Linked DNA regions of Homo sapiens: region 1 is linked to region 2. Evidence: fine-mapped QTL for protein levels in blood plasma. A gene starts in region 2. The other region holds a variant in brackets. All regions are shown on one strand. Distances are between the middles of the regions.

The links. A credible set is the group of variants that fine-mapping cannot tell apart. PIP is the posterior inclusion probability: the model's chance that the variant is causal. The UK Biobank Pharma Proteomics Project read protein levels with antibody pairs (Olink). The fine-mapping took linkage between variants from a reference panel, not from the people measured, so its PIPs are less certain.
Region 1: its variant is the best candidate, but not a certain one, in a credible set for the plasma level of the SERPINI1 protein (UK Biobank, PIP 0.58).

The regions. Positions count from the first base shown.
Region 1 is chr3:167,741,357-167,757,319 of GRCh38, forward strand. The region is part of intron 1 of SERPINI1 (serpin family I member 1); the gene reads left to right. Among named protein-coding and RNA genes, the nearest start is that of SERPINI1, 14 kb to the left of the region's middle. RefSeq lists an enhancer at 9,133-9,252. The variant G/A (reference allele first, on the strand shown) is at 5,368.
Region 2 is chr3:167,723,113-167,739,075 of GRCh38, forward strand. It overlaps SERPINI1 (serpin family I member 1), which reads left to right and starts at 12,609. Exons shown (of 9, transcript NM_001122752.2): 1 at 12,609-12,711. PDCD10 (programmed cell death 10) reads right to left here and starts at 11,780. Exons shown (of 9, transcript NM_007217.4): 1 at 11,550-11,780; 2 at 11,102-11,238. RefSeq lists a silencer at 11,412-11,541 and an enhancer at 11,592-12,031.

The sequences.
Region 1 (15,963 bases), 18 kb after region 2:
TCTATAGCACAGCCAGGCAATTCAATGAGTACCTATCAACTTGTAGTCCACTCCTAGCATCTTGGCTTTTCTTGAACAGACCCCAAAGAGCCCACTAAAACATTTCTGATATTTTACCCACATTGGATTGCTTCTGTCATTTTCTTGATAACCTAGATTTTGTTGCTTTGAGGTCTTTTAACCAGCTCTAACTTGAAGAGCTAGCTAATTTTATTGTTTTTATACCCGTTAGTAGTATGCTAGAGATACCATATTGTGGTGTATAATTTTTGCCTTTACTTGAATTAAATCAGTTATTGGAGCATTTAATTGTTGTGTACTTCACGAAGCAATTTAGAATCATTGAAGCAATTAGTGTTTTTGAGATATATTCAACCTTCCAGTTAAGAAACCTGTACCTAGTCTCCTAAATTGCTTACAGATGTTAAATCCCTTATTCAATGTCTGTGGCAGGTTAAATAGTATCTTATATCTTATGTCCTTTGACATACAATACCAGATGAAATTATATAATACCAGTAATGTCATAGAATAATTTTTGGCTTTGGTAAATTACGAAACTTTTAAAAAAATTATATTATGAGATTTTGTGCACAAGGTATATTAACTAAATCTAAGGCAACAAAGTTTGTTTTTGTATTTCAGAGTTTCTGATATGTTCTTTTAAAAATGCAAATAACTAGTTATCTAGATAAGAAGAAAAAGCCTTAAAATTTAAAAAATAAATAAGGAAAAAAATTTAAAATGCCAATAACTTTAAAGGTGTAAATAATAGCTATTTGTTAATATAATAGCAGATTTAATTAATAATTAGTAATATAAAATTGAACATTTTGAAAAGGAGAGAAAGAAATCTTATCCAGGATTATCTTAAAAGCAAATTTTTCCTCACATTGCATGGCCCAAAAGTGATTAACAATTTAAAAAATAATTGTAAAGTACAGATCAACTAGAAACGCTTTCAGCTACAAGTTTTATGCACAATGAGATAAAACAATAGGGATTTATTTTTCCAGAACAAGAAGTCTGAGGAGAGTAGTTGTTTGCTTTTTGTTTACAGGCTCGATGTTGTCAGAATTTTGTCCTTGTGATTTCTCTTGTGCTTGCTGTAAGACAGATGCCTCTGTTGATCCAGATATCACACTGTCATTCAAAGAAGGAAGAATGAGAAACAGTTGTTCCTGTTGAGTCTTTCTCTTTTAATCAGGAAATAAAAGCTTTCCCAAAGATCCCCGGCAGATGTCCACTGTGCACTAACTGGCTCATGTCATATGGCTGCCCTAGCTTTAATGGAAGTGGAGATATCAAAGACTTTTGGCTTCTGTGGTAGATGGAGCAGGGGAACAAAGGTTTGAGAATGACTTTTGGATAACTGTCAGTAGTTTCAGCCATAGTCTGATGACTAAAACCATGTTTATTTTAAATTTTATTTCTTCTCATTGTTATCAATTTTGTGCCGTTTTGTGTGTGTGTGTGTGTGTGTGTGTGTGTGTGTGTGTGTGTAGAAGTTTAGCAACTCTAACCTTCCCATACCAAGTGTTCACTTCAGTGATTTCCAAATTTTAAGTCCCTGAGCAAAGGCATTCCTCAGAAACTGATGGTATCTCCAGTTAAAAGGCCATCTAGCTAATATTGCATCTAATATTTTTCCTATACTTTGCATTACAAACACTTTTCGTAAAACTTGATGGTTCTATAATAAATCTGCTTTAAATCTAAAAATATTCAGTAATCTCTCCATATAGACTGCATTAAAAAATATGGGTATAATACAAATACAAGAAAAATTGAGTATTAGGATTTCTTTTATGAAGATTTTCTTAGCTGCCTGAAAAAGCAAAATAAGCCATTATTCCCTAGAGGAGAGCCTACTCTAAAAATTTATTACCCTAGAAAATGGTGTTATTATCCATTTCAAAAATGTGAAAAATATGAACATCTATAGAGTGATTATTACCTAAATTATGACTCATTCATACAGTGACACTTTGATACTCATGGTTTTGGTGAATTATGATTCCTTGAGGTAGGAAAGTCTGAGAAGAAAATTGAAATTGAGAAAATGTAAATAAGTACATTAATTTTTTTCTCTGCCTATAAAACTCTCATAATCAAAGATACTGACTTGGCAAAATTGTAGTTGTCTTTGCATTTCTATATCAACATTTTTACTGCCTGATTTTTACATTTCTATCATGTTACCCTAGGTGAATGGCTTTATCGGGATAAAGCTTTCCAGATAAGAGTCACGTGTAAATTTCTAAACTCTTCTACAAACAATCTCTAGTGTGAGTTTGGATTCTATAGGGGAATATAACAAAATATATAAAATTACTGTCTGGCATAATCTTTTGTCAATATAGTTAATAAAAGAAGGCATTGGAAGACACATTTACATTACAACAAGGATATATGACTTAAGGCTATGATATTACAGCAGTTACTATTGTAGAAAGCCAGAAGGAGAAGAAATTGGTCTATGTGGTAATCAGGAAAGGCTTTAAGGAAGAATTAGGGCAGCTGGTATGTTGGTTAATTGCAGGGGATGGCAAGCTAGGGCCTACAGTCACACTACCTTGTTTTATAAATAAAGTTTTATTGTAACACAACCATGCCCATTCATTTACATCTTATTAAGGCTGCCTTCTCGGTACAACAGCAGAGTTGAGTCATTGCAATGAAGACGTGAACCACAAGACTAAAGTATTTCCTATCTGGCCCTTTTAAAAAAATTTGTCAAACACTGGTTAAGAATGTCAGCTCTACAGTCAGACAAAACTGAGTTCAAATTTTTGTTCCATAATCATTAGCTATATGATATTCAGTATGTTACTTAATCTCTCTAAACTTTGGTTTTGTGATATGTAACTTTACTCAAAGGTTGTTTATGTTGACATAATGAGATTTTACACAGAGTGCATTACACAGTAACTGGCGTGTAGTAAATGCTCATTAAATGTTATTTTATTAAACGTTAGGTTTTATTTTATGATAATTTATTTTGTAAGTGAACTATAACTTTTTTTACTCAAATAGGGATTTGAAGCTCTCATTTTAACTCCTCTTCAAACTGCTAAAATAATGTTCAGGACACTAGGAAGGGTATCATCTAATTGTGAGAAATTTAGAAGAGTTGCACAGAATATTGTACTAGGACAGTAAGATTAAGAGCCAAATGACCTAAGTGTATGGAAAAAGTAATGCTACACTTTAAAATATAGTTAATATTTTAACTATATTGTTATTTTTTATATATATAACTATATTTAAATATTTTATATTTATATATAAATATATATAAATATAAAAATATATATATAAATATATATATAAACATATATAAATATATATAAAATATATATAAATATATAAATATATATATTATATATAACTATATTTATATATTAAATATATATTATATATAACTATGGTTATATATATATATAATATATAAATATAGTTATATATATAATATATATATTATATATAACTATAGTTATATATATATATAAATATATATATATCAACTGAATAGCTTATTGAGTATTGAAGGGTGCCAAGCCAGTCAGTTTTTTATAAGTTAAGATACTTTCTCAGAATTTAGAAGAAAATTATATTTAAGGGTAGGGGAACCTAATATAGTAAAGAGGAGACATCACTACCAATCTTACATAAATAAAAGTATTGTTGGAGAACACTATGAACAATTGTATGGCAAAAGATTAGATAACCTAGATGAAGTGAACAAATTGCTAGAAAGACACAAACTACTGAGACCAACTTAAGAAATAGAAAATTCAAATATAGACTCAAAAATGCTCAACAAAATACTAGCAACCAAATCTGGCAACAAAAGAATTATATACCATGATCCAGTAAGTTTTATTCCAGGAATAAAGGTTGGTTTAACATGAAAATCAATTAGCATTACATACTATATCAATGAAATAAAAGACACATAATTATCTCAATTGAAGAAGAAAAATATTTGGCAAAACACACTTTCATGATAAAAACATTTAACAAACTAGGAGTAAAAAGAAACTTCCTCCACGGGGTAAGTACATCTACAGAAAACATAAATAATTTTTTTAAAAAACATAGCTAACATTTGGTAGTGAAAGTCTGAATATTTCCCTTTAAGATCAGGAATAAGTCAAGGATGTCAGCTCTCACACTTTTATTCAACACTGTATTGAAGGTTCTAGCCAGGGAAATTAGGCAAGAAAAATAAAAAGCTCCCATACTAGAAAGGAAGAAATAAATTTCTATTCACATATGAATTGGTCTTGTATATAGAAAATCCTAAAGAATCCACATGAAAAACTATTAGAACTAATAAACAGGTTCACCAAGGTTGCAGGATAGAAGATCGATATAAAGAAACTAATTGTATTTTTATACACTAACAGTGAATATCCAAAATCAAAATTTTAAGATCCACTTAAAACAGCATAAAAAGGAAATAAAATACCAAGGAATGAATTTAACAAAAATGCAAGAATTTTACAACAAAAACACCAAATGATGTACAAAACATCACAAAGAAATTAAAGAAGACCTAAGTAAATTGAAAAGTATCTCATGTTCATGAGTTGAAAGACTTAATATTGTTGGGATGGCAGTATTCTCCAAATTAATATGCAGATTTAATGAATCAAAATGTCAGCCACTTTTTTTGCAGCAATTGACAAGTTGAACTTAGGACTCACATAGAAATGCAAGGAACCCAGATGTATGTGTCAGTGGAACAGAATTCAGAGTCAGGAAATAATTCTTTACATTTTCAGTCAATTGATTTTCAACAGGGTGCTGAGACAGTTTAATGGGGAAGGATATTTAACACATGATACCGAGGCAACTGGATATCTACATGGAAAAAAATAAAATTGGGCTCTACCTCACACCATATACAGAAGTGTTACTTAAAATGGATTACAGGCCTAAATGTAAGAGCTATAACTATAAAACTTAAAACAGGAGTAAATTATTACCATGCATTATACAGTAGTTTCTTAGATATGACACCAAAAGTACAAGAGACATAATAAAAACAAATTGGACTTCATCAAACTTAAAACTTTTGTGTTTCAAAGGACACGAGTTGAAAAGATAAGCCATATAATGGGAGAAAATATTTGCAAATCAGGCATTTGAGAAGAACCTTATATGCAGAGCTCATAAATAACTTATAATTCAACAATTTAAAACAATGCAATTAAAAGTAGGCAAAGGATATGAATAGACATTTCTTCCTCCAAACAAGATGTAAAAATCCAGGAAGCATATGAATAAATACAGAGCATTATTAGACACTAGGGAAATGCAAATCAAAACCACAGTGAGCTACTACTTCACACAAACTAG[G/A]ATGACTAAAGTCAAAGAGACAGACACCTGTAACAATAAAAAGTACTGGTGAGGATGTGGGAATATTTGAACCCTCATAATATTTTTTGAAACTCATAAGGTTTTGGTGAGATTGTAAATGATGCTGTCACTTTGGAAAACAGTTTAGCCATTCTTCAAAATATTAGCCACAGAGTTAGCCTATGACCCAGCAGTTCCACTGTAGGTATATGCCGAAAAGAGTTGAAAAAATGTTTGTCTACACAAAAACATCCACAGGTGTTCATAACAGCATTATTCATAAAAGTGGAAACAATCCAATGTTTGTCAGTTAATGAATGGATAAACACAATGTTGTATAGCCATCCAGTGGAATATTATTTGACGATTAAAAGGAATGAGGTACTGATACTACAGCATGGATGGCCCTTGAAAGCATATTAAGCAAAAACACCAAACACAGCAGGCCACATTTTATGTGAAATATCTAGAATAGGCAAATCCATAAAGACACAAAGTAGATTACTAGTAAGGGACAAAGGGGAATAGGAAGTGACTGCAAATAGTTATGGGGTTTCTTTCTGGGGTGATGAAATGGTCTAAAATTAGATCTTGGTGATGGCTGCACAGCTTGATGAACTTCTTAAAAACCACTAGATTGGCCGGGCACGGTGGCTCAAGCCTGTAATCCCAGCACTTTGGGAGGCCGAGGCAGGCGGATCACGAGGTCAGGAGATCGAAACCATCCTGGCTAACACGGTGAAACTCTGTTTCTACTGAAAATACAGAAAATTAGCTGGGCGTGGCAGCGGGCGCCTGTGGTTCCAGCTACTCGAGAGGCTGAGGCAGGAGAATGGCGTGAACCCGGGAGGCGGAACTTGCAGTGAGCCGAGATCTTGCCACTGCACTCCAGCCTGGGCGACAGAGCGAGACTACGTCTCAAAACAACAACAACAACAACAAAACACTAGATTATACACCTTAAAAGGGTACATTTTATGATATGCGAACTATATTTTAATAAACCTGCTTTTTAAGTGAATATAATATTTAAAACTTTTAAAAATAGGAGTTATGGAAGATAGAATTATGAGGAACCCAGACTAGCAGATAAAAAGTAATGTAGAATAAAAAATTCATTCTACATCACTTGGCCTCACAGAACACCATGAAAAATTAGTGAAGAGAAACTAAGACCTACCCACACTTTGTTAAAGTTTTTTTGTGTTTTGTTGTTTTTTTTTTAATTTCAAAATGAAGGCAAGGAAAAAGCCTAAGCAACTTTAAGCAGATAAAAATAAAGGAGGCGGAAATATCAGCTTATCTTAATACTTCTTTATATCTTATTTTTCACTCAGAAAATATAATACTTAGGAACAAAAAAGTGTGATCAAAACAAAAAGAAAAAACTAGAACTTTAAGATAGAATGACAAATACTAAACAAATATATTGCAGTTATCAACAGCTTTAGTCCATTAGTGAAACACAAAATCCATCATACTGGATAGAAAAAAAAAGTCAAACTATTTAATATTTAAAAGACAGGAAGTTAAGCAAAAGAATACTAGTTTAAAGTAAAAGGATGATGAAGCAATAAATAGACAAAAATAAGTTTTAAAATGTAAGGCAGCTATATTTGTATAAGACAAGGCAGAATTCGAGGCAAAACCTTTAAGGTCAAGGAAGGTAATTTATATTGATAAAGGTGTAATGCATAGTGAAGACTGAATAGCCATGAGCCTATTTATGTCAGTCACATAGAACTAACGTCGCTAAACCAGTCTGAAAAAGAACTGTAAACATGGCCTTTGGTGCCAGATCTTGATTCAAGAGGGAAAAAGTAAATAGTCATGCAACATTAAAAATAAGGAAGGGATAAAAATGGACTTTGGAAGAAATGGAGATGACAACGTCTCAGAGGTGGTAGCATTGATGATGCGGATTTGAGGGAATTTGAGTATGAAATCAACTAGTTTTGTCCCTGAATTAGCTCAGGGATTACAAAATAGGTCAGCAGTCAGCACACAGGTAAGACAGAGTGTGTTACTCTGTGTGTGTGTGTGTGTGTGTGTGTGTGTGTGTGTGTGTGTTAACTGTATCTAAATACCAGTTCTCCACAATGAGTACCATGCTCTGTTGTCTTACACTGAGCTCTTTTTGGTCATTTTCCCAGCCTCCCTGGCCTCTGTAGGCATTTGGGTTTGTTACCACTAGTTTGGGATACGGGAGAAACTGATGAAGAGGAGTAAGTTTTGAGTCAAGCAGCAGGAAAAGAAAGAATAATTGTAATAATTCAAAATGTAACCGTTGTAAATGAGCTGAAAACGTAAAGCATTTAAATCTTTACAAGGATTATATTTATGTACATTCAGTTTGCTTCATGTTATTAAAAATTACTCACTGAGATATTGATATATCACTATTTTGAAATTATCCCCTTGCTTTTATGATTAAGGAAGTCAACTTTCATTAAAATACTGAATCTCATTTCCTCTCTTCTGTGTCTTAAATTTTTGTTTGTGTTTTTTTGCTCTAGTTTACTCTCATACAATGTTCCTTTTATGTCTTACCTTACCCTAATGGGAACATTTTATTTTTTGGTTTGACTCCTTCTCAACATCCACAAAACATATGAAGACATCTATGCTTTTTACCATCATTAAAACATAATGTTCAGCTAGCTGCCTGGCATGAATAATCCATCACTGAGGACCATTAACCATACATGACAAGCTACAGTACAGTAATTGCTATCTTTATACAAGACAATTGTGACTATAAGGCTGATGACTTAAAACCATAAACCCAGTCTCACTTTAAATCTAATAGTGCACCAACTGATATTTTAAGTAGTGTTCTCTTTTCTTCTTTTTAGAATGACTTATAAATGAGAAACTTTAACAGGAATATCTCATTTATTAAAAGGATCCAGAATTTCCACTGTAACACACCTTAGAATGCAGGAAATAAGCTTACAAACCCAGCCAAATTCCTTGCTGTGAAATTCACCTTATTTATCCATTAGCCTTTATGCAGAACCTGTTTACTGTTAATAAACTGTTTAATTTACTATTGAATGCTGTTTATATGTTTAGACAAATTAACAGTGACTCAATATAAACAAAAGATGAGAGGGGAAAAAAGCTAAGAAACTAAGAAAGCATAGGTGCCGGAAGGGTTCATGTCTTGACCTCAGAGAAGTGCAGAGACATAAGCTGTGGGGCAGTATGTAGTGCTCAGTAGATACTGGCTGGGTGAATGAAGGACAGAGCCAGAAAGTTTTAAAAAATGACCTTCAGGCATAAGAAAGAGGATTAATTGTTACATTTCCACTTTTCTGGAAAAACTAAGTGAATTATATATTTTGTTAAAGTTTCATGCAAATGGGTAAAATAAAAATAAATTTCGGTGCTTAAAAAGTAAATTCACAGCTATTGATAAAACACCCAGCCGGGATGACTTATTTTCAGAGAAATTAAAGAAACCAAAGCTTTGCTTTTTTTTCTGGATGTCACTACATGTATATGTTACCCAAATATCTAAAATGACAGCACTGAAATGTCTGTTTCAGAAATGTGCATATGAAATGATTAATTACACATTATGTAACATATCTTCTTCCCAGGTTGAATTTAGCAAGCTCTATGAGAAATATTTTTTCAGCCATGCAGTGTAGCTTGGGAAAGTAAGAACAAGATGACTGCACATAGAAATTAATGAAATAGAAAAGGCAACATGGAGCAATGGGTTTGCCATCACGTGTTCGTGATGCTTATTTGTGTATCATGTGAAGGCTATTATTAGTATGTGAAGAGAAAGTGAAAGGTTTACAGGAGGCAGTGGGTGTTGTCTAGAAGGAAATCCAGAACTGCTTCACTGTTTCTGAGACTGAACTTTTTACTGTGACCTAAGCACTAATATCTTTACATCCATACATTATCACCCTTAATTTTTATGACAATCGTATGAGACAAGTACTATCATAATTCTCATTTCATAGATGAGGAAAGTGGGGCATAGAAAATCATATAGGTTATTTCAGGTATCACCACACAGTACCTAGTTTGCATTTGTTTCCAGCCAAAACATAGTTCTGCAATATAATTATGATCTCAGAAGTAACCAGAATACTTTGTGTATTTCTATGGAATTGTCCATATTTACTTCACAGTATTTGTATATTGTACCTTGCATTCTTCAACTATGAATTCTCTTGCATTCTTAAAAAATTAGACAGCTGCAATTACATATCTAAACCCTATAAAAATAATAAAATCAATATATAAAAACTCTAACTTCAGACAAAAACTAGAGAATGTTTCATGATAATATTAAAAAAAGAATAGAAAATCCACGGCAAGCTTACTTTAAATTAGGCATTTCAAACTGGCAGTTTGACAGACTGAAATCTTTCTGTCTCACCTCCTGCCAGCTAAATTATGTTTTGCAGAGTTTATTATGTTAGGAAAAAAAAGATTTTCTTTAGGTAAGGAATATCCTCTTCAGTTACCGCAGACTCCTCTATTCTCCATTATACTGGACCAATTCACACATTTATATTATCTGCTAAGAAACTGCAGACTTCTGAGTTTGTCAGAACTTTCAATCATGAGCACCTTGGTAAATTTAAAATATGCTATTGAATTATTAACATAGTTTTTGGAATATGTCTACTTGATAAAATGAGGTAGCCCTGTAATTACACAAAGTAAGTCAAACTGTATCAGAATAGTTTTTCAAAGCTTAGTCTCTATAAGCAAAGATTAAATTATTAAGCAGTCAACCGTATCTGTTAACTTCCTTTAAATGTTTTCTCCACATGGAAAGGAATAGGAAATAAGAGATTTTTCTTAAGCCAGATGAAAAATTTGAGATGTGTTAAATTACTCCGCTAAATATATAGATTTATCAGAGAATAGTGTTGAGGTTATCGACACAAATGGTGATGGGTTGTCAATGGCATTTTCAGGCTGTCAACTCAACTGTCAGGATGAAACTAATTGGTACATCATATGCAGCGTTATGTATGATTTGTTCTAATATCTTTTCCAGTACGGTATCTAGTATCTTTTTCATGTACGATAATAAAGCCTCCAATATTAGTGATTCTCCTTCATGTGTGAAGTGACATTTTAAAACTGTATACTGTCCCACAATATAAATGGATTTTGTTTCAAATTGTGTTGTATGAAATTAAACTTTGTGAAATTGCCAACATTTGACTATTTTTGACCTACCAAAAAAAGGTAATTTATATGGTTCAACCTAATACAATAGTTATGCCAAATGGGGAAAATGTTTTTCAAGAGAAACTGAAATACAGGTTTGTTTTGAGATTAGTAATAAACATGCATTGTGTTCCTGCTTTCTGCCAGACCCTGAGCTCTCAAGGAAGGTCATTTTCTCTCTTCATCCTCCTAAGTCTTGCATGTGTTTGGGTTTCCCAGAGCTTGGCCATAGGGCACCTCTTCTCCACACTCCCCAAAAACTCTAATCCAAATGTGCTCATAACTCCTAAATGTATCTCTAACCCAGACCTACACTCTGAACTCTGACCTTATTTATCTAACTACTTTCTTAACTCTCCAAGTGGATGTCTCATGGGCACCTCAGATTTACCTATCCAAAGCAAAATTCATGATCCCCTATCTCACCCCTCTCTGCTTTTGTTCCAGCCTTCTCCATCTTAATGAAGGACAGCTCCACCTACCTACCCAGCTGGCTGAGTTTAAACCTGGGAGTAATCCTGACTCGCCCTTCCTTACTGTTACCTCTGTCTTGTCCAATTTATTTTTTAAATAAGTCTATCCATAATCTAACTATCCCTTTTCTATCTTCATTGCAACCCCCATAGTCAACTATCTTCTCTCACCTGGATTGTTACAATAACCACCCAATTTCTTCTTCAGCTTCTGCTTGAGACTCCCCATACTCTCTCCTGTATAACTTTATAAATTATACTGTGTTTAGGAGAAAATGCAACATCCTTGCTGCTTACAAGGGCCTAGATAACCTAGCCCCTACCTCATAAGCCAGCCTCTTCTTTTCCTTTGTTCATTGTATTATTTCAGTTCTTTAATCACAGAGCTCTTTTCTGCCATCAGGCCTTCATATTATTCCCTCTGTCTGGAATACTGCTTCCCTCCTTAACTCTTATTTATCCTCATGTCTCAACTTAAATAACACTTGCTTAGAGAGGCCTTCCCTGATTCTCTCCTTAATCTAAAATAGGTCCCTGTTATTCTTTTATGTGACACACTATTACTTTTTATTCATTGCACTTAACACAGTTTTCAACTAGGTGCTTTAATGCATGTGTGTTCGTTTAATGTAAGCTCTGTGAAGGCAGAGCCCTTGTCTGCTGCTTTCACCTCCATGTCCAGGGCCCAGTACACAGTGGATGCTCTCTGCTTGAAATGAAAAGTATAGTCTATATTGGATGTCGATGCTTGAGGAAAGCCAGATGTTCAGAGGAGGATGTGAGGGGCTTTTGGAAATGTGGTATGGTTTCAAATCCCATCTTTGTTTTGGGTGACTTTTCTGAGCCCCTAGATTGTAAGCTTTCTCAAAGCAGTTATTTTGTCTATTTTGTGTAGAGGGCACTGCTCTATTCCCAGTGCCCAGAAAAGTGCTTGATAATTAGGGATGTTCAATAAATATTTGTTGAGTAAATGAACTGTTTCCTCTTTCACAAAGTTCCTTTCTCATGAAACTATAAGGGTGGTAAATAAAGAAAATATAGGAAGCATCTAATGTATAGCAGGTACTCAATAATGCCAGAAACCCTAGTGGGTTTTTCAAAACATAATTCTCACATTTTTTACAAGAGTGATTCTCAGAGGCCTTGGGACCCTATGAAGATTGGGGGTGGGGAGCAGTGAGGTGGGTATCTTAAACTTACCCCTGTGGCCTTTTTTCAAACTACCTAAACTTATACTTCATGTCCAGTGCCTACTACAGACTGGCTATTTTTCATGAAGAATATATCATATTCCTCAGGTGTGCTAAAGCAAAGATTAAGGAAAATATGTCTAAATCTTGCCTAGAACCAATGTCACAAGAATAATAGCTAATAAAGGAGAACTGTATATCAGAAGACTATCAGTGTTGTTAGGCTAAAGAATGTATATTAAAAAAGGAACTGTGAAATAATTATATAGTGATGCTACTGTCTCTCTTCTGGTAAGAAATATCAGAATGTGTGCTTGATAGAGTGTCTCTCTGGATATATTACCTTGGATTCAATTTTAAAGGCATTTGCTAGCCCTTAATGTTTTTTAAAAGGGGGAGAGGAGTAGATTTCTTATTCTCCAAAATCATGTATTAACCTTACTTCAAGCTGCTTTTTCAAGGGAAATATTTATACTCCCAGTAACTGGTTGGAAGAGATGCAGTTATGCCACATTTACCTTTGTTTTATCCAGTTTAAGAATTTGTGAGCTCTGTATTCATTTTTATACTGGTTAATTAGGCATGAAATCCAGGAGGGATAAAGGAATAAAGGTCAGAATCACCACAGGCTGTCACAAATCCCAGAAATAGGGGAAGTGAAAATTCACCAACCAATTGAACCACACATTACACACAGCTAGACCCTGGGCTACAGAGATGCATCTTCAGCAACTGGAATAGATGAAAGTGTCTCTTAAAGCCCTCCATTGATCTATAATTGTAAAATGTTTACAAGCATTTTGATTGTATACAACAAAAATAAGCAACTTTAAGTGTCCTACTTCTGTGGCACATACATTTTCATAATTTACAGATTCTATTATCTGTGCTTTCTTTAGTATATGTACACTGTTCAAATTTGAATATTCTAAATGTCAACAAAGAATAACATTAATGTTTATGACTTGGCCATAAGGAAATCCACAGTGCAAAATCTGAATTTTCACGTCCTTGGAACATACTGGAAGTGTCACTAATCAGATAAATCCACTAGAAGAAAAACTTCTGTTAGAGGTATAATCCAGAAGGGAAGTTGATTGAATACAACTGCATTATTTGGTTATAGCAGAACTGCCACACTATAGGATTTCCAGATTCATCCAGGTAAATCCTTTCATTTTCTTCCACTTCAGGAGTTCTCAATCTTTGCTGGTCTGCGTGTCCACCATGGAGTTCAGGTTCAAGCTATTTTTGTCCATGTCCTACCCAACCCTGAGTAGGTGCTTGCTTCTTGGATCCCTGCTAGCACTTTTTCATTCCCTATTAACTGACCACCTAGTTGGCCTCCTCTTCCTTCTTTCTTTCTTTCCTGCTGTTCACAGATATCTTTGATAGCTCCTTCCTGCAGCCTCATGCAGCTCAATGAACTGTTCTGCTGTCTGATCAAAACATTCATTCAACAAATCCCATTCCTTCTTGACTTTTATTCCAGTCTTTCAACAATCCTACCAGGTTACTGGGCCATAGCTCTCATTGTAAGCATTAAGATATAACTCCACAACTACATTTTTTTAAGTTTAGCTGTATGGGAAAGAATCATGCATATTAATCCATGACCTATTTCAGGATGGTAGTTTGGAAGCACTTCCTAATTAAGAAACTCTGAAAGAAAGCACATGGCATTATCACGATCACTCCAAATGGACCTCCTTTTAAAGTCATTTCAGATTTCACCAGCAGTGCACATTCACTCCTGATTTGGAGTAGGCAAGTGACCAAGGATACTGGTAGATTCAATATTTTAAAAGGAACTTACTGGTAAAAATAAGTTCTTGTTTCAAGGAAATAGATGATGGTCTTATAGTACTTCAAAAGGGCCCATTAAGATAGAGCTATACTTTGTAAAAATATTTGTTATTTTAGGTTAAGCAATTCAGAGAGAGGAAACCATAAGAAGGCTGTGGTTGGTACTGGAACCTTGTAAAATGAAGATCAAAATCACTGACTGTTCATACTTGAAATTACAATAAATGTAAAATGTGACCTTGGTATTATGGCATAGTCTTTTAAAAATGTCTTTGTTTTCATTTGTTTTTCACTTTCTTCTGTAATCTCTCAGATTCTGGTACTACTGAAATAGTTTAGCTTTGTAAACCTAAAGCCTATATTATTAGCTATTAAAACAAGTAGGTGTTGCTGATTTTTTTTTTTTTTTTTTTTTGGCTGTGGTCCGTCCTGCAGACCCCAGCTGCATGACGGATGAATAACGTACTCAGACACTGATATTCAGTGAAAGAGTTGGCTAGGGGACCAGGCCGCTGACTGAAAGAGATGTAGCAGCCATGACCCTGACTAGCTGGCTCCTCCGACATTTATTCAGCACACATTAAATGACAAAGGCTTTGAGTCAGCACCACTAGAGGCTAATTAACCTGGTCACTCTCCCCACCCCCTGACCCCTGCCCCCAACCCCAGAGAGCCATCCTGCCCACGAATGATCAAAGGTTAGTTTTAGGACCACATGAGTAAACAAGTTATTTAGATAAACTCCTCTACATTCCTAGGTATCCATGCCCTATGCTTTTAAGATAATTCAGCTGCTTTCAGTCAAACACTTTACTGAAGCTATGTAAACCCCCAGGCCTTCCAAGAAGTTTTGTGTTTATTTCCCATAATTTTACAATTTCTCCCACCATCCTGACCCAACCCCCACATTTTTTGAGACAATGTCTCACTCTGCTTGCCCAGGCTAGAGTACAGTGGTGTGATCTCAGCTCACTGCAGCCTTGACCTCCCAGGCTCAGGTCATCCTCCCATCTCAGCCTCCCAAGTAGCTGGGACTACAGGCATGCACCACCACATTCATCTTTGTTTTTGTTTTTGTTTTTGTTTTTTAGTAGAGATAGAGTTTCACCATGTTACTCAGGCTGGTCTTGAACTCCCCTACTCAAGTGATCCACCCACCTCAGCCTCCCAAAGTGCTGGAATTACAGGCATAAGCCGCAACACCCAGCCCTAAAATTGCTTTTGTAATTAAACTTCCAAATAAACATGTCTAGCCATTAGTTAAAAGATAAGTCATCTTTTTTTTTGAAAAATATATATAAGCATATGCCCCTTGTAATGACTATGGCAGTCATGCCATAAAAGCAATTTCTAGTCCACCACTGCAGTTATTTAGATTAGCTATTTGATTTCCATTAATCCAAAGAAGACCAGAACATCTAAGTATCTACAATATGCAACCAACTTTCTGCTTCAGACTTTATAAATAATGTATTCTGCGTCTCAGCTGACTCTTCGTTATGTCACAAGTCTAAGCCACCATGTAAAAAATAGACTTAGTGACTCTATGTAAATGAGGTTTTCTGCCTGTAGGGAATCAATTCTGTGAAATTCAGTGAGTAATAAAACAGCTACAAAGGATTTATTAAAGAGAGAAAAGTGCATCTATTACTGATTAGGATATTTTTAGGGAAAGGCACATTGAACAGCAACCTTTAAATAATCAAGTTAGTTAATCACAGTATCAAATGACTTTAGTGCTGGAAGGAATCTGAAAGATCAAAGACCAACCCTCCTGTTTTACTGATGAAGCCTAGAGCTTTTTCTAAGACCAGCTTTTGAAAGGACCTCACACTAAACTGCAAGGTCACTGAAGGCAGTGTATAATGGTTGCTTATATCCGTGGTGTTTGTGCAGTGCTTGGGATGTATTAAACACTG
Region 2 (15,963 bases):
AGCATTTACATGAGATTAGAAATCAACAATTCCAATACGGCTTTTAAAATATTGAATTACTGTCAATTTCAACTTCGAGTTAAAATATGCCTTTGTCATTCCTTCCGCATGCTTCTTCATTTGAAATAGTTCAAGGGACAACCTGCAATTACCCCATGCAACAAAGAGCCTGCTATGGAAACAGCAAGGGTTGGCTGAGCTGAGTGAGGTCTGAGGCCCCCTTTGACAAGGTGCCTTCCTTTTAGGATGAGTGTGACCAAGTCCCGGCAGCTGGGTAGCACATTAACAAAATTTCAACCCTCTAAGGTACACTATTTTCTGGAGTAGGTGCTGATTATGCACATACAGAAAACTGAAGATCACTGACTACAAATCCCACATCTGAAATGGCCTTAAAAAGTTATTTCACCCATTTCACTACCTACAGCAGAAACCGAAGTACAAAAAGGATGTAGTGACTTGCTCCTGGTCACAACATCTAGCTAATAATTAAATACATAATAAAAATGTAATGTTGGTATGATAACAACATAGCAAGAACTTTACGTCTCACGTTTCAAATGTGCTGCTTTGCAGGGAAATCTTCAGTTCAAAGTAAGCTTTGTGTACTGTTGGCATCCACAAAATAAAAACCAAGAACAAGAAATGTTGAAAGAACCTAGACAAAAGGCATACTTTTAAACACACTTTTCTTCAAAAACACCCATTGTGATATTGGGATATCAACACAGAGTATAAGCAATCTTCTCACTTATAATTTACCCCTCATTTTCTTGAATATTCAAAATAGCACTGCTAATTTTTAACAGAAGATAATCAGCTTTAAATATCTTCCTGAGCTGAAGATAATTATCACTTGCTTAGAGTAAGAAGCCCAAAAACAGGTATTCGCCACTCCGCTGCCAAACTCTTAAATCTTTGGTGTTTCTGCCCTCCCTAACCAACTCGAGTCTGCTCATTTAAAGAGCCACACATGGGTATATCTCAGGGCTCAGAATCAGTATTTCCTGAAACTGCCTTACTTTACTCCATCTGGGACTTGAGATAAGTCTAGAGCCAAAGCTATTTACTATCAAATGAAAGGAGAGGAACAACAGAAGCTCTTGGTACTGGTATAGGCACTTCTCAGTTAGAAAAACAGCTTTTTAAGTAATTCTACACTTAAAACGTTTGTAGGCAGGCAGGTCTTTTTGTCTTGCTTTTCTCTCTAGTAAAATCCAGTACTCAGCCCTCTTGGCCCTAAATTCTTATAATTCCTATAATTTCTCTCTCTAAAAAGGGAAAGATTGATTGACTGACTGATGTATGCTGGATCTCCAACAAATGTGCATGAACATTCAGTTAAGAGAAGTGTGTTCATTCTAGCAGTGAGCAGAATCCTGTGTTTATGTTCCCATTTATAAGTGTGTTTCTTCTTCCCAATAGAGACATTACAGTCAGCATAGCGGGCACATAACAGACACTTAATGTTTGCTGAATGACCAAATTCATGAGTTGAGATGGGCAATTTATAAATTGAATCAGTCTTGCTAATATACTTTTCAAATAGCATGCCTAGCAAAATAAAAACAAACACAAAAATCAAATTAATTCTATTAACAAAGCCTGGACCCAGCCACATTATCACTGGAACCAAAATTCAGTGATAATAAGACTTCATTATTGTTATCAGCTATACTTTCCAAAGTAATCTAATAGGAATTTCTTTAAGACAAATTTTTCTTTAAGCATCAAATCATTAAAAATTATTTACAAATTCTAATTAAGGAGGTCCTCCCCAAGAGTTGGTTAACCCAGGATTTCAATTAACTGACAATTCCTTGCTTTCTCTCAATAATATAACACAGAGAATCATACTCATCAGCTGGGCACGGTGGCTCATGCCTGTAATCCCAGCACTTTGGGAGGCCAAGGCAGGTGGATCACTTGAGGTCAGGAGTTCAAGACCAGCCTGGCTAATATGGTGAAACCCCATCTCTACTAAAAATACATAAACTAGCCAGATGCGGTGGTGGGCTTCTGTAGTCCCAGCTACTCAGGAGGCTGAGGCAAGGGAATTGCTTGGACCTGGAAGGCGGAAGTTGCAGTGAGTCGAGATCGTGCCACTGCACTCCAGCCTGGGCAACAGAGCGAGACTCTGTCTCAAAAAAGAAAAAAAAAAAAAAAAAAAAAAAAATCACTCATCAAACTCTTAGAGAAAATGGATTTTTACAAAGACTGTATAGATGGTAGTCTGGCCATTTAACAAAGCGGGGTGGGGTTAACATTTGCTGACACAGTTTACGTACCTTTTTAGGGCTTTCTCATGCCAAAATGCTGTTAGTCACTTCCAAACAAGAGACCAAGATTTAGAGGAGAAAGCTAGGAAAAAGGGAGGCAGAGGAATAGGGTAAGTCAGTGATCCTACTTAGAGTAAAATGAGCTTGATGTCTTAAGGATATACCTACATCTCTCTCCTTGACTTGCAAATTACATCTTCTATAATTCAATGTCTTCCATTTCCAGTTTTCTTAATAAAGTTAAGTGGAACCTAACCTCCCTGAACATACACTACTGTCAGTTTAGTACTTACAGAATTTTACACTTAGGGACATCTAGAAGCAATCTCTTGTTAATGGTAAGTGTATATAGCACTTTACCATTGTATCGTTTATATATATATATATATATATATATATATATATATATATATATATATATGCTTTAAAAATATTAAATGGACAATTTGTGCAGAAAGATACAGGGAAAAAGCATAAGCATTTAAAGTCTCAAAGCATGGGCTCAAATTCTGGTCCTGTCATTCATAAACTATCTTTGTCTCTGAACAAGTCATTTCACCTCTCTATCCTTTGGTTTCTTCTTTAATATGTCTGACAACTCTAGGGTACTTAGCAGCACAAGCTTGTGGATCTTCAACTTGGTGCTGCTGAGACTTCCAGCTCATCTTAAAAGTTAACTGCACCATGTCAAGTGTATGCACTTACATATTTTGTAGAGTACTGTTTTTTTTTTTTTTTTTTTTTTTTGAGACAGAGTTTCACTCTGTCACCCAGGCTGGGGTGCAGTGGCGTACCTCCACCCAGGTTCAAGCGATTCCCCTTCCTCAGCCTCTCGAGTACTGGGATTATAGGCACCTGCCACCACGCCTGGCTATTTTGTATTTTTAGTAGAGATGGGGGTTTCACCATGTTGGTCAGTTTGGTTTCAAACTCCTGACCTCAGGTGATCCACCCGCCTCAGCCTCCCAAAGTGCTGGGATTACAGGCGTGAGCCACTGTGCCTGGCCAGAGTACTGTTTCTTAATACAGAAATTTATAAAATGGGTAAGAAGTAACTTTTTCTACACATAGATAGACAGTATACAGCAGGAGATAGTGCTCAGTTTGGAAGGAAAAAAACCTCAGTTTGAATTTTTGCTCAGCTGGATGCTATCATTTCAGTTTTGTAAATCTCTATTTCTAAACTAGTGAGAAACAGAAATACTGAAGTACTCACTTCCCCAGATTAAGAGTACTAACTGCATATAAAATAGTTACTACAGTGGCTAACACATAATAACCATTCTATTCATATTGTTATTAATATTTTAGCCAAAATTCTAGGAACCTGACATGGAATCGATTGCAACTAGGGTGAGGCAAACCAGATGCCTAGAACACAAAATTTTGCTCTGATTTGCATGACTGAGAGAGTTAGTGCTTCTTCAAAGTTTGTACCCTAGGCATATCTCTTGCCTCACCCTAGTCCTGCCCCTGCATAACATACACAATGAGAGTCAAACACTGATATCACAATGTCATAAAGGCCACCTACATAGCATATTTTCAAAACCTTTTATCTCCCATTTGCCAAAATGGATGCATAAATACACTTAGTTTTGGCTTACATAAAAGAATTTGGCCATCAGGTGCATTTTAAAACTTTTTGCCAAACCAATGTTAAAATTACTTTTCTAAATGTACATAGATAAACTTAACAAAGGAAACCATGGCCCAGAAGCAGGCTGGGTAGCAGGCTGGGTTGCACACTGAAATCAAGATGTGATCAAAGCCCTTGAGATAATTCATAAAAGGTTTATAATCTGTACAAGATAATCAAAAGTTGACAACAAAATTAAAGAGCTCATTACCTCAGAATTAGCTGATGGGAAATGGAAACAGTAACAAAATAGTAACAATTGGCTCCTACGATATTTCAAAGCAACTTGTTCAGGGGGAAAAACATACATCTCTTTAGTTGTGACAATCCTCATTTTTTTTTCCTATGTCTAAATTTTTGGTAAATTCTGATCTGAGTAAAATTTAAATGAAAACACTTGTTGGAAGACAGGAAACAAATCTGTCCCCTTGAATATGTTCATCTTTTGCCCATAAAGTTCTCAACCTAATGGTTCATGAATAATGCCTAGTTGAATAGTTGTTTGGTGTTTAATTGAGGTACATGTCTATTTTCCTTTTTATTAGTATTATTCCTTGTCTTAGTTTCTCCAATACGATGTTAATTAAAGCTTTCCTTTAAAATCCCTTAGAAATTCAACTAAACTTAATTCCTCAGAGTGTTAGGTCCTCTCTGCTTAAAGGTACAATTAAAAGAATCTGTACCACCCTGGATCAGAGCTACTTGCTTTGTATCACTTATAATCTTAGATACCTAGAATTTAACTTAATGACTCCTAATGGCTTAAGATCCTCTAAAACATGCAACAGGTACTTTCATTACTTTACACAATTTCTTTGCACCAAAAACACTGCCACAGGGCACTCAAATGTTGACAGAAACTATTAGCCCCAGACAATAAATAGCCTCTGCCTTATTTAACATTAGGTGCTAATGAGGCCAAGGTTCTATCTTGATGATGACATTTAACTTTACCTTTAGCTCCCAATTGATCTCAAATACAAATACTATTTCTTACAAGAAGAAATTAGGGCTAGGATAGTATCTGTTTTTACTGCATCTACTGTTCCTCCTGTAACCTTCACTTCGCAAAAGTGTGATTTATTTTTTAAGGGAGCATACCAAAAATAAGGTAGAACCTTGGAAATCTCTCAAATTTTGACAGTACTGCATAAATACCGATTTTAATATGGATAAAGACATAGAGAAAGATGTGCAGTTCTCAATAAAAAAAAAAAAAGGATTCCAAATGCTTTGGAATTAAATGAAAAAAAGCCTAGCAACAATCTAAACTCGTATAGGGTGCAGTTGCTGTCTAGAGGCCAGGTCTGACTCATTTAACATTCCCAACTGGCTTCTGTTGTAGTAACCTTATATAAGTCTGAGGAGGCAGCCGGTGTGTAACATCTTAGGGTTTTGTCATTCCATAACTTCAATCTCAGTTGAATTCCAGTCTATCTTGAAGTAAGAGAGAATGACTGAATAAGACAGGGAGACCCATTTCAGTGCCAGGGACCAGATGGCAGTTAGAGAAACAATCATTTATTTTTCTATCAGCTCTAACCTAAAATTGTAAAATGAACTGATGCACATGGAAGTACTTAGTATATTAGAAAGACTAAATGTCCATACAATGGTCTTTCAACCCTTTCCCCTTGTATCTACTGAAGTATAAACTCCCTAAAGAGAAGTTGTATCCATTTCTCTATTTCCTAGTATCCAACACAGTATTCTGCATAGTCAGTCTAAGTCAGCAACAGTGTTAGTTGGAGATATGGTGATGAAAAGTCAAACAGCACATACCCTTGAAGGTATGTAGTCTTGGCAGGGAAGAGAGACAGTAAAGAAATACAGTGACATGTCACACTGCCACTTGGCATTAACACTCCAGGGAGCGTACCTGCTTCACATGATACTCCTACCCTATGCAAGTTCAACAGACATGGTGAACATTTGTTTGAAGAAAACAAACAAAAAAATAACTTCACTAAAAATAACTACTGCAGTATGTGATAATTCCATTCCCTATGCAAAAGTCCCAGAATGAGACAGATAAGAAACGTGGATCTGCCACTCCCCACACCAGACTGAGAGCCACAGTGAGCTCTCACAAAGAGTAGCTTGCCACACTGATTGTGACTCTTGTATTATAATATACATATTTCTTTTTTCAATATGGTCTCTGCATAACAAGTCAAACACTTCACCTGGTACTCAAAAGAAATCTACTCCAATGCTAGAAAAAAACTGGCTGTGTTGAAGTTGTTAGTCTACAACGTGTATTTCCTAATAGGTTTTTTAAAAAGTTTGAATATTAAGTAATTTCTGCCTGCCACACTGACCTTAGCATTTAAGACATAACTGCTCTGTAACTACAACTCTTAATGCTAATTTCTCTCTCCAATGCAGTTCAATCACTAACATCATTTTTACTATAATGATGAAAAACATGGTCTCTTGAGTCAGCCAGCCTGGATTCAAATCCTAATTCCAAGCAATTTTTCCTGCAACCGTAGGCAAGTTCCTTAACCTCTCTGTACTTTAGTTTCCTCATTTAAAAACTGGAGATAATAGTGCCTCTACCTCGAAGGGTTGTCGTAAGGATTATAAGAGATCCTGTAAAATGCTTATTAGCATGAGACTTGGCACTTAGTTACTTAATACTCAATAAATGCTAGCTATTATATTAGGTTCCAGTTCATTCCAAAGAAGGTTTAAGGCAATTTCACAAGTAATATGCATTCAATAAGTAAATGAATCAAAAAGTCATTATTTAGACTAACCTCTGGTAAACTTATTCCCAAGGGACCAGCCTAAGTATATGTTAGTGACTACCACTTAACATGTTCCACTGCTGTTACCCAATAGTTCATAAGCTTGTTAATAAAATTCTTTTCTTTTTCTTTTAACCCTATAGGCAACCTGGATTCTATCAACTGTATAAGAATGAAACTGAACAGCAGAAAATCACTTTTGGGTGATTTTAAAAATGGTTATACATAACCAAAAATGTAAGGGTGAGCTTGAAAAATAAGTGTAATATAATACACTTAAGACACATTTAAATTTTGTAGCTTAAATGACAAAATTGAAATTACCATCTTCATACAGACAAAAATGAACCATCAAACCACAGTGTTTATCTTTCAGCACATAAATTATTTCTAATTGCTATAATAAATGTGCTTTCATTTTTTGCATTGTGTGTGTGTGTGTGTCCCTAAAGCATAACCCTCTAACACTGCAGCTTACTATAATATTTCAAATGCAATAACATAGATAACAATGACATTTAACTTCTAAATCACTTTTACAGTTTATATTATGGAAAAAATTACTTATCATGTAAGTGGCTTAAAATTCTTAGTAACACCTATCATAATGATATTAATTATCCAACAACATATAAAAAGCAGTATTTCAGTTTTATCCTCCACATACTGGTTATGCTAGGTAAATATGAAAATTTTATCCAAGATTCAAGTAACATCAACACTGACTTTTTAAAAAGTAAGTTTAGGATTTAGCAAAGACTTGTTTTTAATAATAAAATGGATAGTATTACCAAATTTTAAAGCCAAATTATCAGCAATCTCTTTTTGACAAGATCTTGTGGAAGAGTAAACTGGTAAATCCATGAAGGCATACAAGGCTACAGAAACTCAGGGCTGTTGACCTTACTCTATGCCATACCGTGGTACTACAAATGACTGCAGAACTTGTTTCCAAGACCAAAACCTAACACAATTTATCCCTAAAATTCAGTTTGTATGTTTTAAAAATAATCTTTTTATGCTTAAGTCTCCAGCTATAAAGCAAATAAGATTAGAAAAGTATTAGAAAAATTTTCAGGAAACCCAAAATATAAGTTCCTTTGAAACAAAAACTACTCAATTTTACAAAGCCACCTTGTCTAAATCAAGTGATATTAAAGGTATAATTCATAGGAAGATAGCAAGGTTAAAAAGCAAGAAACAAAACAAAAAAGCAAAGAAAAAGAAAAAATTATGGATTCTAGAATACGGAGATAGATCCAGATTCTAACCATGGTTCCAGTACCAACGTTCTGGAAACTCTAGCAATTTAATTAAACTTTTTTTAGTTTAATAAGTAAATTTACTTATTTTCTTGATGTCTTCAGCTATAAAACAGTATTAATACTACTACCTAGAGGAAATAAAGGTTTTTAGGGCAAAACGAGACAACATTAGGGAAGAAGAGTCCATTAGAAGTTTCTTCCATGTCTATATTTTGTTATAATGAATATCGCTTGCAAAAAGCAGGACAGTGATAAGTCTCTAAAATGCTGTGTTACACAGCAATTCTGCGGCAAATGAAAGTGATTCCTTTATCATTTCCACTTAGAAAATTAATCCTGATTTCAGAGACCTCCAAAAAGAACAAACATTTTTCCACAATTTATATTAAAATTCTGTCAATGACTCCTTTACATATAACCTAAATTGCCTAAGCATTATGGCTCATTTGAAAGTTCTTATATACTTCAATCCAGAAAGCATATCCGCTTTATTCATTTCTCTATTTCTGTCCCCAGAGAAGTGCTGGAAGCACTGTGCATGAATACACTCCTTCATTCATTCAGCAAATATTTACTGAACCCTTACAATGTGCCAGGTACTGCGTAAGTAGTGGGGTAAAACATGACAAATGAGAGGGCCCTGCTCAGGGAGCTTATAGTCCAGTGAGGAGACAGTATTTGTCAAATAAATACAGAAATAATTAAGTTTCTATTATGATGATGCCACAAAGGAGTACAGAGTATGGTGAATACATGGCGGAAACCTATTCTGATTTTGGGAAGGCGGGCAAGGCTCCCCTGACGAACGATATTTAAATTGAGACGTGAAAACTGACTACCAGGTGGCCACATTTAGGTAGGCGTGAGGGGAACAGTCCAAGGAGTGAGACGGAATATGTAAAGGCCACCAAGTCAGGAAGCAGCTTATGTATGTAGTAACTGAAAGGCATGGTAAATGAGAAAGGCTGGAGATAAGGACGGAGAGCTGGATAGGAGAAGAGATAAATTTTTAGTGTTAAACAGAGTAAGAAGGTAATAGTATTTGAATATTTAAGTCACGTTAAGTCTTCTTCTCATGTAAATAATCTAAGGGAACTAAGTCTTTACTCCAAAATATTAAAGATCTGTAGTCAGAAGATCTCGATTTTGTCTTACTCCCACCAGTTACAAGTCACTTAACCAACTTGAGCCTCTTCATTCTCTTTGTAAATATTATCTTACCTACTCAGACTACAATAATAAACAGCCCCTATTCTTACAGACCTTACATCCTTAAGAGAAACAGACAGATGTATAATATACGGAAGACATCCCAAGTCCTCTAAGAAATAATGTCCAAAAGCTGACATAAGGCTCCTGCAAAGTTCAAAATGAGAAGAAATGCAGACACTGGTGAGCTGCAAACCACGTGTACACATAACTCTGTGAACTCCTAATTATCCAACGTGCAGAGATCTAAAGTGACAACAGTACCGCAGCATGTGACTGAAAGATGATAACAACAATACAAACATTAATCCACCATCCGAATAGAAGAAATATCAAAACTATAATTGGCCTCAGAGATAAAGAGTAGTGGCAGAAATGAACCAAGAACAAAATCTAAAACACACTGAACAAATGCATTACATTAACTAATTTCCAAAATTTCCTCATAGTTCAAAAGCTCTTTCCATAATGACAGAGTTACATGCCAAAGGTTAGAACTTATTTCATACCTCCTTCAACAAAAGGCAAATACCTACATTGTCATCTAGAAAACAGATTAATATTCTTGCTTTACCATCACTGACTCATGTTCAGTTTACGGTCTACTTACATCACTGCACCTTTCTTAATCCAGCACAAAGTCAGTTATCACCACATAATTTTCCATTTGTTTAACTGGGTCTTCCTTGTCTGTGTACTACATTACTTATGGTACATTATTCCTGATTTTACTTCATTCTATAGTATCATACTTTTTCTATTTTAAAAATCGTATTAATTTCCAGACCATCTTAATTTCAACCATCAGGGAAGATAATACCTCTGTTCCGAAAAAATGTTTTTCCATTAAAAAGTGAAGCACATTGTTGATAATATAGTAACTGCAGAGTACATTCAAAATTCAGCATAGTCTGATGATCAACTTATATATAAAACAGTAAGCTATGATTTATTACATGTTAAGAGTAAGCCATGATTTATTACATGCTAACCTGTATGGATATAAAGTTATCACAAATAAATTCTGCCATCAATGAACATACTCTAACAATTCTATTAAAAACTTATCCAATAATAATAGTCATGAGCTATAACTGGTCATAATCATTATAGAGGATAAGACTTGCATAAAGGCACTACTTTCTGCAAGATATGAACTATACGTGTACTGTTTTTTCATTCTTCAATGTAAAGTAAGAATGAATTGAAAGTCACAGTTGATGCTAAGAAAAATAAAAATATGCAAGAGCCCAATTTTATTATTTGCAGACACACACACAAATACAGCCCAGAGTCAAGAAAATGGGGGAAAAGTAAAGTCTCAAAAAAGACGATGTTACCTCCAAGAAATGCAAAATACCTTCTTTTCTAGTAATGGGCACACTAAACTCTCCTAACGCTACATTATTTGAAAAAAGTGTAGTTTTGTGAAAGAATTCCAATCCCACTATTATCAGTTTTACAAAATGAGAGTAAAAACAGTCCTAAGGTAGAAAAAGAAAAGAATATTCTTCTAAGGATGGGATATATTGTTTAACTGTTGTTCTCCCATCCTATTACCTACCCGTAAAAATGAACTGTGAGAGTAGAGTCTATCATTTAATACACCCCTAAAAAAAGGGGAAAAATCTGTAAAAGTTGAAACTGGCCATTTTTATTTTTTCCAAAAGGATCTTTCCTTTATTGAGGAATTTCACTCCGGTTCAAGAAACAACTTTTTATCTCACAATGGCTTCTTAGATATACTATATAAAATACATTTACTTTGTAACTTCCTCCACCCTTTTCAAAAAGCACAACCAACGTCCCTACTCTAAAGCTGGACTCGAACCGAACTAGATTCAGAAAGTCTGTCCCTACGTGTGTGACCTTGGGCACGTCATATAATCCCTCGGTTTCCTCATCAGCATCCCAAAATGAAAGCGCTCTGAAAGCAGTAAAGGAGTAAAAACATACCTTAGGTATGACACCTAAGAGGGTCAAGTCTTTCTGTTTAAGGCAAAATTATCTCCTTAGAGGGCCACATCATTAAACTGGAACTGAATCCGTAGACCCCAACATTTGTCTCTTCCTTCTTCCAGTGCTCCTCTTCCCTCAAAGGGCATAACCCGAGTCACCCCCAAGAGCCGACTCCCAAGCACCCTTTCCTTCCTCCTCCCTTTTCTCTTACTTACAAAGCAGGGGGAAAACAGCAGCCTCACCTCTCGGTCCGAAGCCACACCTTCAAAGGACCCCACCCCAGGCACATCCGCCCTGTCCCCTCTCCCGGGGCACCAGGGGCCAACCTCGCCCTTCCCCTCCCGCCCCCACCTAGAGGAGACTTCCTGGAGGCGTTCGGGCCCAAGCCGGCAGGCGGCATTTACAAACCCGCTTTACGCCACTCGCGTAGGGTAACCTCGCTTACGCCCGTAGGGCCCCGCTCTCAGCCCCGTCCGCTCCGCCTGCCAGAACCAAGCCCAAGTGCCTCAGCCATGGCCCCTGCGTGACCCTAGACCTCTTCTGCTCGGTGCAGAGCTACGGGGACTGGGACAGAACAGCTACACCTTACCAGCAACTGAGGCACTGACTTCACTTCCCACCTTGCAGCCCTCTTCAACTCCCGGATCAATTCACTCCGGCGACGCCGGAAGGACCCAAGAGGAACCAGGCGTTGTCCGGAATCCTGCCCAGCCGGAGTCGTGCAGAGGCTTATGGGGACTCGTAGTCCCGCTCGCCGGCGTTGTCCGCAATTCCTGCAATCGGAAGACTACACTTCCCGGCAGGCCATGCGGGGGATCCTGAGGCGATGGGTGGTGACACTTCTAGCCAATAGTAGGAGAATTCCCTGCCTTTGCGGGAGGAGGTGAGATGAAGAGAGATGGTGCACGGAAAGGAGAGGAAGGGCGGGGCAAGCCCTCACCTGCGCCAATCAGGGTGCGGAGTAGGCCCCGCAGGCGCCTCACCCATTGAGGGGGCGGGCTGACAGAGCAGAGGAAGGAAGGGGGTGAGGGGCCTGTGGTGGGGATCCTGGGGCTGTCGGGCTGAGTATGCCGTGTGGGTGGAGAGGAAGCCTCGGGGAAATCGCCCAGGTGAAGGGAGGGCTTGGTGTGGGGACTTGCACTGGGCAGAGGGGCAGCTTCCCTGAGAGCAGCTAAGCCCCAGGCACACCGGGCATCCGGACACACAGGTCGGGGAAGGATAGGCTGAGCCGGGGCTCCCAGCAGAGACGCCTGGGTGGGGCAGGAGGCCGCTCCAGGTGTGAGCCACAGAGGAGGGGAGAGGGACCCCCACGGGAGTGGAAGTGGCAGAGCAGCTGCAGAAGTGCAGGGAGCGGAAAGGTACCAGGGCAGCTGCTTTCCGCTGCCTCCGGTCCGGGCAGCTGCAGAAACAGCAGGGGGAGGAGCAACAGCTGCCAAATTCGCCAACTAGAGGAGGGAGAGGCGGAGCTTGGGTCCCTGTAGAAGCCAGAGGCGCAGTCTGGACTGTAGTTTCCCGGGAGAGACGAAAGCAGGAACGAGAGCGGAGCGGAGCACAGTCCGCCGAGCACAAGCTCCAGCATCCCGTCAGGGGTTGCAGGTGTGTGGGAGGTAAGCGTGGGTCCTTCTTCGGGGCGTCTGCACTGCCCTGGAGAAAACGTCTTCCAATAGGAATTACATCAAGACACAGCTAAAAGAGTCCGCGTTGGGTTAGGAAACCGGTGCAAAACCTCTCGGGTGAAAGATTTACATTTTTCGACTTTAAGGGCAAAAAAGCAAAAGGAAGCTTGACTCTGGGTATAAAGGGCGTGGTTAGTGTTTTTGGTTTGAGTTGCACCAGTAAAACTGTTCTGGGAGATCTGAAGATTGAGAAAAATCCTGCTAATTGAGGACGAGGTGGATGTTATCTGGTGGATGTTATAGGTGCGTAGCCTATAAAAAGCAAAAATTTTGCTATTGATATAGAATAACTTCTGAACTATTTCACTAGGAAAATAACTTTGCATTCTTCTTCAGTGTCTACCCTTTACGTTGGTTTATCAGATTGTCCTGCTACCGACCTGTTATCCAGGGTGGTTATTTTGCAGTTTCCTAGAATTGCAAGAAATCCGTATTAAAGAAGCAAGTGCAGGCAGGAATAGTCAGGATAGGATGGGCTCTGACTTAATCTATCAAAAGTATAACTTTTGCCAGCAATAATGTAAAAATGAATTTTAATGAATGGATAGTTAGCTTTCTTCCCAGTGGCTCTGGAATATTGGAACAAAGACCTGGATTCAGCCTACAATGGAAACATATGGTGTACCTCACTGCTGCTCGTTAGTTTCTCATTTGTGTCCGATAATATGTGTACATTTTAAAAACGAGTACATGGAAAGCTGTGTGGGAATCTTTTCTCTGGGTAGAGAGTATGTGCTGAAGGACTACCCTTAATATGTGTTATGATAGTGGGTTCAGTTTAAAACACATGTAGTGTCATAAAATAATAGTTTATTCTCGGTATTAAACTATATGTGCATTCAAAGCAACGTTAATTGTAATACCTATGGATGGAAATAAGTTGTAATGCTGGGTAAAGATGAAAGTCTCACCTACCTTTGTGTAATTATGACAAAATTACAGCCTTTTATTTTTAGAGAAGTAGTAAGAAGCTATTTTCCTAGTTCATTTTCATTTTGTTACAGAGGTTCCCAGATTACATGGCTTTTAATCATAGTAGCATATTGCAGCAAATTTTGCTCTGAAATGCTTTCATTGTGACAGTTGCATATTTCAGAGTCTGTCTCAATACTTTATGTTTTTTTTTAATAACCAGGGTCAATAAAATGGAGTAATTGTCTTGTTTTCTCCTATTTCTATGCTTTCCTGAGTTCTCGGGATTTTAAATTTTATTTTTGTAATGCATCCCAAATTTCTTTTTGAAAAGAAATGGCTCAAATGAATTCTCTTCCCAGATTAAAGTTCAGTCCTACTGAGTGCTACTACCGATAAGCCTAAGTGACTTTTCAGTGTGTATACTCTTCCCTCCCACACTCTCACATACCATAGAAATATATAGACAGATAGATCATAGAAAAACAGCTGCTTTTTAATTACCCCTAAGCAAATCAGCTAAGTATCAAAAACAGCAAAGAGCTTAGAAGAAAGAAAAAGCAACAGTAGCTGCTAAACTTAACCACTATAAGGATCAGGTTTTATCTTTGCTACAGCACTGGAGAATCTATTAATTCACATAGCTGATATGGCCCTGTGAAAATGATTTTGGGGGTAAAAAAAAAAGTGGGTATTAGGGTGACACATGGAAAAGACTGTGTTTGCCCTTGTTATTTGTGATTAAGTGGATTGTCTTGAATCAGTCTTAGATTCTTTCTCAGACCCTACTACTAATTCATTTTGTAAAACTGAATAATTGCTGTCGCTGGGTTATTTCCCCTATGTAATAATTATAATACTACCAATGAAATTCTTTCCGAGCCTTTATTAAAAGATCTGTTTGAAAGAGTTTTATTGGGAAACAGTTAATAAGCAAGCAAATGGATAGAAGATAAATATCTAAACAGTTGAAATTAAGATATACTTTGAATCTCAGCTCTTTATAGGTCTTCTGCTCTGAGACACGGTAAAGGATAGAATCTGATTAGGAATGAATGAGTTTGTGGTATTAAAGTACTGATTTTTTTCACCTGTTTCCAAGATTTGGATCCTTTTTACTGTGTCAGTAAAAGAGATTGGGTTTCAATATCATTTGAAAAAAGACCATGTTTTTATATGAGAGAATATCATTGGAAATATATGGCATTTATTTTTTACCTTGCACTCTTGATTCATGTTAGTTAATATTCACATTCAATCTCAGGTAATCTGAAGATTTTTCTTGATTGGTGTTGAAAACGTTCGTTATATGGCAGTTTATAATTCTGTGTAAAATGCTACCCATGTTATAAGCATATTACTTATTTTGCTCTTTAATTTTACTATTTGTGTATGGCTATCAGTGAATATGTATGATGAGAAAGGAAAAGCAACAGAGTGCAGAATGTCTCTCTTGAATGGAAATTGCTCTGGGGATGATTGTTCTTTAGCCAAAAACCTTGGTTAATTTCAAATTACCATATCCTTTGGTCTTTTCTTTAGAGTTCTGATTCTAAGCCTTTTGAGTAAAAATAAGTTAGCATGGATTTCTTTTTAACAGGAAGATTCACTGATGCATGCAGCACAAAAGAGCAAGACTTAAAGGTTCAAGATCAAATGGTTTTGGTAAAGAAGGATACAGGGGAATAGATATAAAGAAAACTACTTGAGAAACACACCTTTAGCAAAAGAGAAAAAAGATTTTATATTTTTTGTTAAATTCCTATAATCCATGATTCCATGACCTTTTCTCCCCCAGTCATTAATTTGTAGAGGCCTGTATTCATACTGGGATACATTACTTTTCTAAGTAAAATTGAATATTCAAAATCCAATGAATACCAGTCTGATTCCAGTTAAAATGGCAATTTTTACTGGAATAAATTTTGGATGATTAACCTTCCTTTTTTATGCTTTTATAACCCATAAATATTCAAAATCTAATGAATACCAGTCTGATTCCAGTCAATTGCCATTTTAACTGGAATCAAACTGGTATTCATTAGATTTTGAATATTCATGGATTATTAACCATAAAAATCCTACCTGTATACACTAACTTCTAAGTGAAACATTATTTGGACAAAATATCAAAAAGTAAATACCTAAACTGATGTTTTGCCCCTTTAAAATAATAAAGGTACTTGAACCAGACACTAAGATGAGCAAGAGCCCATTTATTTAATTAAGCAAATTCCAAAGGTTAAACACTGCTTTTGGGATCAGAATTAA